3 linked regions of the Homo sapiens genome follow. The protein of the gene in region 3 purifies or fractionates together with the protein of the main gene of each other region. This does not show direct contact. Each region holds a gene or a part of one and is shown on either strand. Other genes may lie near its edges. The genes, in order: MCCC1, NDUFAF7 and OTC.

Region 1 (3,657 bases), on a different chromosome or scaffold from region 3:
GGTCGTCTTCACTGCTACACTCCCACCAGCACCATGACAGTTTGCAAATGCCATGGCAACGTCAGGAAGTTACCCTATATGGTCTAAAAAGGGGAGGCAAGAATACTCCACCCCTTGTTTAGCATATCATCAAGAAATAACCATAAAAATGGCAACCAGCAGCCCTTGGGGCTGCTCTGTCTATGGAGTAGCCATTCTTTATTCCTTTACTTTCTTAATAAACTTGCTTTCAATTAAAAAGAAGTTATTACTAGAAATACAGAATAGAAATAGAGTCACACAATGTGCCACACAATGACATTCCATCAATGCCAGACTGCATATAGGATGGTGATTTCATAAGATTATGATAGAGCTGAAAAATTCCTATCATTTAGTGACATAATAGCACAATACATTACCTTTCCTATGTTTTGAGATGTTTAGATACACAAATACTTACCATTGTGTTACAAATGCCTACAGTATTCAATACAGTAACGTTTGTACAGGTTTGTAGCTCAGGAGCAATAGGCTATACCATAGCTTAGGTGTGTAGTTGACTATACTATCTCAGTTTGTGTAAGGACACTCTATGATGTGTGCACAACAATGAAATTGCCTAACAATGCATTTCTCAGAATGTATCTCTGTCATTAAGCAACACATGACTGTATATAAGAATATTAATAATAATTAGGAGAATACAATTATGGGTTGTTTTCCATCTTCTGCATTTTCCAAAAATTTGTAATGTATTCATATTACTTCTATAGTTCAAAAAATATTACTGATGCCTATTACAAGGAAAGTAGTATGCCAGGCAATATATACAAAAAATAAAAATGTATATACTACCAGGTCTTTGATTCCCAGGGGCTTTCCAGCTATTGGGGGAATAAATTATAATGTGACGCAATGTATGGCTAACATTTCATAAGTAAAGAACTTACATATTCAAAAAATGCTGCAGGCATGGAGTTACATAATAACTCAAATAAGCTATTGATGTCTCTGAAATAAGTTACTGAAATAAGCTATTGATGTCTCCACAATTCTAACTTAAGAGCATGCTGATTTGGATGGCTAGCCTATTCTTTCTTGAAAGGAAGCCTTCAATGTACCTTAGAAATGCCCCCCCCTTTTTTTTTGCCTTAATTGAATTTCATTTACTATGCCATGCTCAGGACAGTTGTTTTATAGGGCCTGAAACAAAAAACAATTTGGGGGTCTTCTCTAAGGAGAAGAATACAAAACTGCAAATACAAAATTAGGTCAGGGTCTTGGAAGAGATTAATGTCAAAGAAGGGCCTGAAGTTTCAAGTCTGTTACCTTCAAGGTAAATCTCTTTCCAGTCATGGTTCCCAAATAAATTATTCTTTTCACTTGACTTACAGGTCACACACATATATATATAAAATTTAACAATTGTCATAAAAATCTATGAAATGAGAAACTTTATAATCAGCATCTTAAACAACAAACATGAAAATAAAATTCCAGAAAAAAAAATAGGGATTCACACTGCATTTGCTATAGTGGTACCCAGAGAAGTAGCTTAGTGCAGTGGCTTAGATATGAACTCTGGAGTCAAAGTGCCTGGGTTCAAATCTCAGCTTTACTACTTAACAGCTGAGTGACCTCAGAAAAGTAACACAACACAACCATTCTGTTGCTTAGTGTCCTCACCTGTAAAATGAAAACAGTACTTACCTAATGAGGTTGTTGTAAGAATTATATTAGAATTAGAAGGACAGCAAGATTATTTAGCATGTGTAAAATATTTAAAATCTGGCACATGGTAAGTGCAATGTAAGTGTTAGCTCCTATTAACAGCATATCACTTGTAATTCAATTTAGAAAATTACTTCCATTTCCTGAGCATCTCAACTGACAGAGTTCTATAAATATAGCTGAATTTATTACAATAATTTGCTAATATTGAAAAAAAACCCTAAATTTCATCAACAAGAAACATACTGAATGAATTAATGGTATATCAAGATCATAGAACCGCTAGGTCACCAACAAAAAGAATGAGGCTGATCTACAATTACTGACATGGAAAGATGTCTGTGATATAATATTAGTGTATAAGATTCTATTCACTGGCCGGGCACAGTGGCTCACGCCTGTAATCCCAGCACTTTGGGAGGCTGAGGCAGGTGGATCACGAGGTCAGGAGTTTGAGACCTGCCTGACCAACATGGGAAAACCCCATCTCTACTAAAAACACAAAAATTAGCCAGGCATGGTGGGGCATACCTGTAATTCCAGCTACTTAGGAGGCTGAGGCAGGACAATCGCTTGAACTCGGGAGGCAGAGGTTGCAATGAGCCGAGATCGTGCCACTGCACTCCAGCCTGGGCAACTGAATGAGAGACTCCGTCCAAAAAAAAAAAAAAATTCTATTCACTGTTCTTAGGTATGTATTTTGTTTGCTGTATGTATATGTATATAGGTTTCTATTCACATAGAAAATGGCTGGAAGAATGCATACCATCCTACAATCAGTGGTTACATCACAGGACAGAACTGGGAAACTTGTAATAATATACTTATATACTACTACAGTTTTATATTTTATAGAATGTGCATGCATTATTTTTATAATTTAATTTTTAAACTCTGAGTCAGAAAAATAAGGCCAACCCACCTCGGTGTGTCTACAAACTTCTCGATCAGCATAGCATCATCATTGAAAGACTTCTTAGCTTCTCTCCGTGCTGACTCTAACTGTTCTTGAAATTCTTGTTCTGATCTAACAATCCTCATTCCCTAAGAGAGAAAAGATGATTATGACTACAACATAAATAAAACAAAGAAGACAAGCCTGAATTGGCAAACACAAGCATGCACAATCTTACTTTTCCTCCTCCACCCCGGACGGCTTTAATCATGACAGGATAGCCAATTCTCCTGGCGTGTTCCTTCAGGCACTGGTCTGATTGGTCCTCACCATGATAACCCTCCACAACAGGTACTCCAGCAGCAGCCATTATGGATTTGGATGTGCTTTAGAGTGGGAAAGAAAACAACATGCCCCAAATTCTACAAATTATTTCATTCAAGACAAACATAAATATAGCCCAGTCTATAAATTACAATGGAACTCTTTAAAGAAAACATCGAGTCTGAGACGACAAAATAATACAAATTTAATATGTCTATTAGTTAGTTTCCCTCATTTCATGTGGTAGCTCATCTCACCCTATTTTTTAATCCCAAAATACTAATATATTGATTAGAAACATTAAGTATTTTCTGTAACTCAATAGAATTTCTCTATGTCACAGATAAATAACTTATGCCTATGACAACAGAAGGGTAGAATTAAAATATTATAGGTAAAACAAACTATTTCTTTTTTTTTTTTAGAGACAGGGTCTCACAATGTTGCCCATGCCAGAGTGCAGTGGTGCAATTATACTTCACTACAGCCTTAAACTTCTGAGCTCAAGTGATCCTTCTGCCTCAGCCTCCTAAGCAGCTGGGACTACAGGTGTGTGTCACCATACCCAGCTGAATTTTTTTTTTTTTTTTTGAGATGGGGTCTTACTCTGTCACCCAGACTGAAGTATGATGGTGTGATCACAGCTCACTGCAGCCTTGATCTCCTGGGCTCAAGCAATCCTCCCACCTCAGCCTCCCAAGATGCTGGACCCACAGGCACGTGCC
Region 2 (3,657 bases), on a different chromosome or scaffold from region 3:
CAGGCATGAGCCACCACGCCCAGCCGCATGTTTACTTTTTAAAATAAAATAGAAATATGGCAACTAGCTTTGTAAGTTAAAGGAAACTCAGTTTCACAATAACTTATTAGCTTGAGCACACATTTGCACCAAAGCCAGTCACAACCCTAAAAGTTCTATAATGTTGGTTGTATTATATACAACATGGACTGTTCTTGCTGTGAAAAGATAAAATACTTTGACTTTTGTTACCTGCAGTATATGAAATGTGTTTCCTTTATTTTGATTTCTTGGGCCGACTGAAGGGTAAAATGTCCAAGCTGAAATATCACTGCCAAGCAAGTTCACTAAACCCAGCTACAACGGATGCAAAGGGTTTTGACTGACGTGCATTCCTCTGATATCTTCCACCTTGAAGTCTCTGATGAGGTAGCAAGGCAAAAAAGTTAAATCTCTCTCCCATCTTCTTTGGATTCATTAACATATCATATCCTTGAAGTAACTGCTGCCTCACTGATGGCTCATTTGATTTATCTAAAAGAACCTGAAAAGAAAAAAATTCTTAGCAAAAATAACCAGAAGACAGGATTCCTAGTTACATGCAGCAATACTAATGACTCTCAAATATTCCAATAAAACAGCACTCAAAATGTGACTTCTGATTACCTGCCTGAGAATCATAGAGTACTTATTAAAAATGTAGATTGGTGTGAAACAAACCTAAGGATTTGCATTTTTAACAAATATCCTCAGGGGGTTTGATCTACAGTAAGGTTTAGGTGTTCTCAGAAGAACAGTTAGAAAATTCATACCCATAAACGCAGTTTTCTTAACAAACAAAAACACTATTTGGAAGTCTTAATGCTACCTCCCATGGAGATGCATAAAACTTACCAGACTAGTTACTAAATCCTATACTACCTGAAAAGACTGGAATACCAAGGATTGGCTAACTACAAGAGCATTAAGGCCAGGTGAACATACTATTTAAAGTAATTTTTGAAATACTATGAAAGTACTTAATAACAGTGAAATAAAATAAACCTTACCTTCAGCCGGACATCAATACCCATATTTTTTAAAAATGTGTGTTGTTTTATTGGGCCCAGAGAGGCTACTTTTCCCTGTGCCATTCTTCGCAAATAACTGAAGTCCACATCAGCTGTTAGATCTGCTGTTCCTGGGGCAATTAAGACATCATGAAGCTTGTGGTCGCAAAACCCCTTGAACATAAAGAAATCAGATTTTTGCCCTTTTATGGTTATTAAGATTAAAGAAATGCTATCATATTAAAGTTATTTAATATTTACATTAATGCTTGAGGTGACGGAATAGAGCTCTCATTAATTCTCTAGGCAGGGAACACCTAGGCAGTGTTTTACAAAGTATATGCATCAACCATGCATCAGAATCACCTGAGATACACTACAAACTACTACACAGCCATAAAAAAAAATGAAATCACGTCCTTTTCAGCAACGTAGACATAGCTGGAGGCCATTATCCTAAGTGAATTAATGCAGGGACAAAACCAAATACCACATGTACATCTCACTTAGAGCTAAACACTGGGTACACGTGAACATACTTATGGGAACAAACACTGGTGACTACTAGAGGGGAGACAGGAGGAGGGGAACAAGGGCTGAAAATCTATCTACTGAGTACTATGCTTGCCACCTGGGTGACAGGCTCACTCGTACCCCAAACCTCAGAGTCAATGCAATATACCCATGTAACAAATAACAAACCTGCCTCATGTACCCCCTAAATCTAAAATAAAAGTTGAAATTACTTAAAAAAAAATCACCTGAGAATATATTACTGACCCTAACCAGACCTGGTCAGTCAGAATCCTGGAGGTAAGGCTAGAGAATGAGTATTTTCAACAAACTATCCAGGTTATTTTTAGATAAAGTTAGAAATTAAGAACCACAGACCTAGAAAATGACTAAGAGCATTTAGTTAAATGTTTTTCAATTAAAGTATATTGAATAGAATTGATTATATTCAAAGATCATTAAGAAAGGATGTTTAGGAACAGTGTAAAAGAATACATCTGGAAAGGGAAAAAATGTTGAAAATATGATAGAAAAAGCTAGAATGATTACAGTAGGTAGTTTAAATCTGTAAAGAAGTACCAAAATTTTTCTTGAATGAAGGGGGTTACAGATAGGTTTAAGAATGTGAAGAAAATCTTTCCATTTGTATTATTCAGCTGCTTATCTGGATTTATATAAACATAGGTTCTACAACTAAGGAAGAATGTACACAATTCAGATCCTGTTAAAGGAGGGCTGGACAGTAGACTCAGTGTTAGCAGTAAGAACTAGGGTTAAGGGGAATTACAATAACATGAATTAATGTTAACTATAAAATAATGTAATACAACAATACCAGGCACTGTAGAAATCAAAGCTCTTCAATGGGCTTCAGATCTAACACTGAAATTCTGATAAATCATGTTACTGAATTATACATACTCTGAAGGTATCTGTCTTTGTTCCATCATGACCATAATCAGCAACCAGTGCAGCACCTCCAGTTAATGCAATGCGTTGAGAAAGTTCCTCGATGATAACACCAGCATCAGGACACACTTCAACATGATCCCTTGTTTCGTCATGCTAGTAAAGGGATCATTGCAAGAGTCAAAATGCATCATTCAAAAGAATGACTTCCTTACGGTTTTTCAGGTTTTTCCTCAATGAGCATTTCTTAGTTTTAATAAAAATAAATTCTTAATATGAGTATGTTCTCTACACTCAACTTTTCACCTGACTCCCTTTTTATTATACAAAACTCCTTAGTTCTTTGATGCTATCCCACTTGATATACAAAGACATTTTAATCTCTTTTATAAAAAGGCAAATGCCCTCCCAATCCCCCCAGATGGCCTAGAGCATTATCATTTAATGTAAAATTACTTTTGTATCACAAATCATATAAACACATTCCTCTAGGTTGAAAGCATGGGAAAGGGATTTTTTTTGTCTGCCTAGAACAGTGCCAGGCACATAACAGTCAATGAAAATATTGTGCTGAAAGAACAAATGGTATAAATCCAATAACACGAAGCAGACCCTATTAGACAATTATATTATCATGCCCTCTGTTGTGCCAGAAAGTATCCCAATGATATGCCCTACATCAAGAAACGCTGGCTTATAAACTAGTGCCAATGTATTGAAACCGTTATTACCCCAAGATGTCCACTTAACTAAGGGGCCACAATAAGTGTGTACTAGCTTAAAAAGCAAAATCACACTAAGTATTAACACTTGTCAACCTGACTAGTATATATGAAATTTCACTACTTCCTGATCTGATTGAAAATGTGGTATTTCTTTCCCTTCATTATGAAAACATACATTAACTTGTACTCCTTCCTAACACCTTATTATAGAAATGCAGTAATGACCTGCCCTGATGTCTGCCTATGGTAACAGGCATAGAGTCAGATGAAGTTAAATCTCAGCTCTTCCTATGCTTACTGGTAGACAAGTTACTTAAACTTTCTGAGTTGTTTTCTTCCTTATAGATATTGTAGGTTTATTGTGAGGATTAAATATAACTAACCATTTAGCTAATAGTGCAATCAAATTACTGTGGCTTAACTATAAAAACCATGAAGTCAGCCTCATCAGGCATCAGTGGACACGCTGATCATGCTGACAT
Region 3 (3,657 bases):
TTTTTTTTTTTTTTTGAGACAGAGTCTCGCTCTGTCACCCAGGCTGGAGTGCAGTGGCAAAATCTCGGCTGACTGCAACCTCCGCCTCCAGAGCTCAAGCAATTCTCCTGCCTCAGCTTCCTGAGTAGCTGGGACTACAGGCATGTGCCACCATGCCCAGTGAATTTTTGTATTTTTAGTAGAGACGGGATTTCACCATATTGGCCAGGCTGGTTTTAAACTCCTGACCTCAAATGATCCGCCCGCCTCGCCTCTCAAAGTGCTGGGATTACAGGCATGAGCCACCGTGTCTGGCAAGTCTTTTTTTTTTTTTTTTCTTTTTAAATTTAAGAGAGTACCACTTCAAGTTACACCAGTAACTCAGTTTTCTGTTATTCTATTTAGTGGAACAGTAGACCTTTCAGTAAAGAACTCTACTAATGTAATATGTGGCTGATAGCAAAAGTCACCAATTATAGTCCACTATATTTAAAAAGTTGCTTTGGTGTGATAATATTATATTTGGAGCTGATCTCCAAATTATTATTTTTAGCACTTGAAGCATACTCCATCACTAGTTAAAACAATTTAGATAAAGGTAATGAGGTAGGGGTGAATTAAACAGGATTATAAGCACTATGCATTAGATTTTTCATTCTTAATGCAAATGTACTAGCAGTTTTAATTTTCTCCAACAGTTAATTGCTGAAAGTTACATTTCCCTATATATTTCTATTGTTCACATACAGATTCAAAACTACATTCCTTCATACTTTCTTACCTCAAAATTACTGCCTTTGTACTACAATTTTGTTTTACCTCCCACCCAAGCTCTAGGTTCAGGACATTTTGAGTTTCTAAAATACCAGCAAAATTACATGGAAAAAAGTAACATTTATAAATGCCATACATCAACAAAATGACTGTTCTTCAATCCTACAGTTCCAGCACCAGCAACACATATAAGATTGGCCAAGCAAGTGTAAGTATGAAGCAATTTATATAATTTAAAATATCTCCATGAAAATATATTCCACATGATAAGGGATTAGCCATAATATATAAAGAGCTCCTATAACCAATAATAGAAAAGGCAAAAAAATAGAAAATGGGCAAAAAATGTAATAGCAATTTATAGAAAAAAGGGCAATGCCCAATAAACATAAAAAGATGCTTAACTTCATTAGTAATCAAGGAATTGCAAATTTTAACAAAGATGAGGTGCCATTTTTCCTCCAGATTTAGAAAAATTAAAAATGTAAATAAAAGCTAAACATGGAGAGGATATGGAAAAATAACTATAATATACAGCTGCAGCAGTATACATTTTTAATCTTCTTTGGGTAAGCAATTTAGCAGCACTCTCATATTTTAAAAAATTTATACCACTTCACCCCAAAATTCCTCTCCTCAGGATCTTATTCTCCAGTAATATTTGCACAAAGAAATATGGATAAGCAAGTTCATTGCAGCATTTTTGTAATCGGCATTCTCAGAAATAGCCTAATTTATCAATAGGAAACATTTTAAGTAAATTATGGTTCCACTTATCCTTTGGAATTCTATGCAGCAACTAAAAAGAATAAAAAATATCTAAATGAGTGAGCAAGAAAATCTAAGATTTGTTAAGTGGAAAAAGTAAGAATAATAATAAATAAATAAGTAATGTCTAAAATATCATTTACAAAAAAATCAATAGTTATGTGTGTATTGAGGCATACATATGTAAATGCACAGAAAAGGTCTGCAAAGAGACACATCAAATTATTAAACAGAGGCTACCTCTAGGAATAGTCTCTGTTAAAGAGATGGGAGAAAGACATTTTTACTTTTTATTTTTCAAACTTCTGTTCTATTTTATATATAACAATAAAGAACTTGTATTTATGTATTACTTTATCAATATAATATTAATTGTACTTGCTTAATCCCTTTCTCCACCAAAGTAGATTTGTTGCTTTGCTGACAAAACCCCTGTGCATTTGGCTTTCAGGGTATTCCTCCAGAACATTGCTTCTCAAAGTGTGGCCCTGGAGGCAGCAGCACTGCATCACCTGGGAACTTGGTAGAAATGCAGATTCTCAGGTTTCACCCTGACCTACTGAATCAGAAACCCTGGGGGTGGGACCCAGCCAGCTGTGTATTAACAACTCCTCTGGTGATGCTAATACCTGCTCAAGACTGAGAAGCATTGTTCCAGATCTTACTGGAAGACAGCCAAACAGATGAGTCCCCTGGGAATGCCCTGGAGGGCATTAGCAAAACTAAACTGGATTTAGAGGTCCTTGGAAAATAGAGGCAAGGACTAGCCTGAGGAGCATAGTTAAGGGGCTTTTCTTAGGGGAGAAATCATAAGAAACTGCATGCATCAGAAGTAACCTAATTTCTCTAAACACACAAAGAGTAAAACACTGCAATGCCTCGATTCTTGTGAGAGGGAAAAGCCTGCTCCTCTCTTCTCAGTGGGTTTCAAATTCCTTCATCCAGCACAAAAATGCCTTTCCAAAGGACACAGCTAATCTTTGGAAGGAGAGAAGTCCCTAGGGGATACAGTCAGTGAGTCCTTTTATAGGGAATGAAAGGACAGTCTGCTCCCCCTAAAGTGAATAAGTGATTAGATGGTTCTGGCCTTCATGAATGGAATTAATGAACCTTCAGAGAGGCATCAATTTGTACCTTCATTGTAACCTGGTAACCTTGGAAAGCCTGGAGCCGCTTTTTCTTCTCCTCTTCTTGTCCCATGCTTATCCAAGTGTCTGTAATTAATACATTGCCTCCATGCGCTGCTTCCAATGGATCATTTGTCAGCAACAGCTTGGTACCATTCTAGCATACATAAACACGCTGGTTAAATAACTTCATGGGACAGTAAAAGGCAATAATAGCTTTACATGTAAAGAGCATACCTCTTTGGCATACTGCTCTGCCAACTTGGTTACACTAGCATCCGGCTCATAACCCTAAAGGAGGAAGAATTTAAATCTTATTTAGGTAATTTTATTATACATGTTTTCTTAAATATATATTATTTTCTTTTCAATATCGCGTCTCCTTCCCTTTTTCAAGATGTGGTCCCACCATGTTCAGTAGAATATGATTTTTACATCTAGAATTCCAAAACTCAATAGTGCCTTTTGGAATTTAAAGAGACAACCAATTGCCCCAGCTTTCACTATCTCCGACTTCTTTAATCATAAAGGCAAACATAAGGCATGGTGCTTTCTAACTCTTGGAAGCACCTCTTCCGGTTTCCATAATGGCTTAAGAGGATTATATTCAGAAGTGTGCAAATGAATGCATGTTTGTCTATCTTTGCACATGCTATCCTTTCTTGTCTGAAATTCTTTCTTCCACCCATTCCATGTGGATAACTTTTTCAGGTCTCAGTTGAAATGTCCCCTCCTCAGAAAAACCTTCCCTGACCATCCCAGCTAAATACTAACAGCTCCCCCTCCCCCATTACACACCTCTCATTCTTTTGCATTCCCCAGCAAGCCTTTTGAGGGCAGGGTGCTTGTTTTGAAAGGCATTGACAGAACAAATACATTGTTTTTGCTAAGATTATATATTTGTCCGGGATGGTTTGGTGAGGGCAGAGTCAGACTCTGGAGAGGCAAGCGAGGTGCCTAGGGCAAAACATTTAAGGAGGCGCTAGAAAAAATGTAAAGAAACACACAT

The links.
Region 1: the proteins of OTC (region 3) and MCCC1 purify together in Homo sapiens (affinity purification with mass spectrometry; one large-scale study listed by BioGRID and IntAct). This does not show direct contact.
Region 2: the proteins of OTC (region 3) and NDUFAF7 purify together in Homo sapiens (affinity purification with mass spectrometry; one large-scale study listed by BioGRID and IntAct). This does not show direct contact.

Annotation. Positions count from the first base shown.
Region 1 is NC_000003.12:183,068,364-183,072,020, forward strand, and holds part of MCCC1 (methylcrotonoyl-CoA carboxylase subunit alpha, mitochondrial isoform 1 precursor), read right to left. Parts: intron 2,995-3,657; coding exon 2,847-2,994; intron 2,758-2,846; coding exon 2,636-2,757; intron 1-2,635.
Region 2 is NC_000002.12:37,245,001-37,248,657, reverse strand, and holds part of NDUFAF7 (protein arginine methyltransferase NDUFAF7, mitochondrial), read right to left. Parts: intron 2,607-3,657; coding exon 2,463-2,606; intron 1,203-2,462; coding exon 1,029-1,202; intron 524-1,028; coding exon 308-523; 3' UTR 1-307. UniProt on the Homo sapiens protein: Arginine methyltransferase involved in the assembly or stability of mitochondrial NADH:ubiquinone oxidoreductase complex (complex I).
Region 3 is NC_000023.11:38,408,024-38,411,680, reverse strand, and holds part of OTC (ornithine transcarbamylase, mitochondrial precursor), read right to left. Parts: intron 2,940-3,657; coding exon 2,886-2,939; intron 2,806-2,885; coding exon 2,656-2,805; intron 1-2,655. UniProt on the Homo sapiens protein: Catalyzes the second step of the urea cycle, the condensation of carbamoyl phosphate with L-ornithine to form L-citrulline. The urea cycle ensures the detoxification of ammonia by converting it to urea for excretion.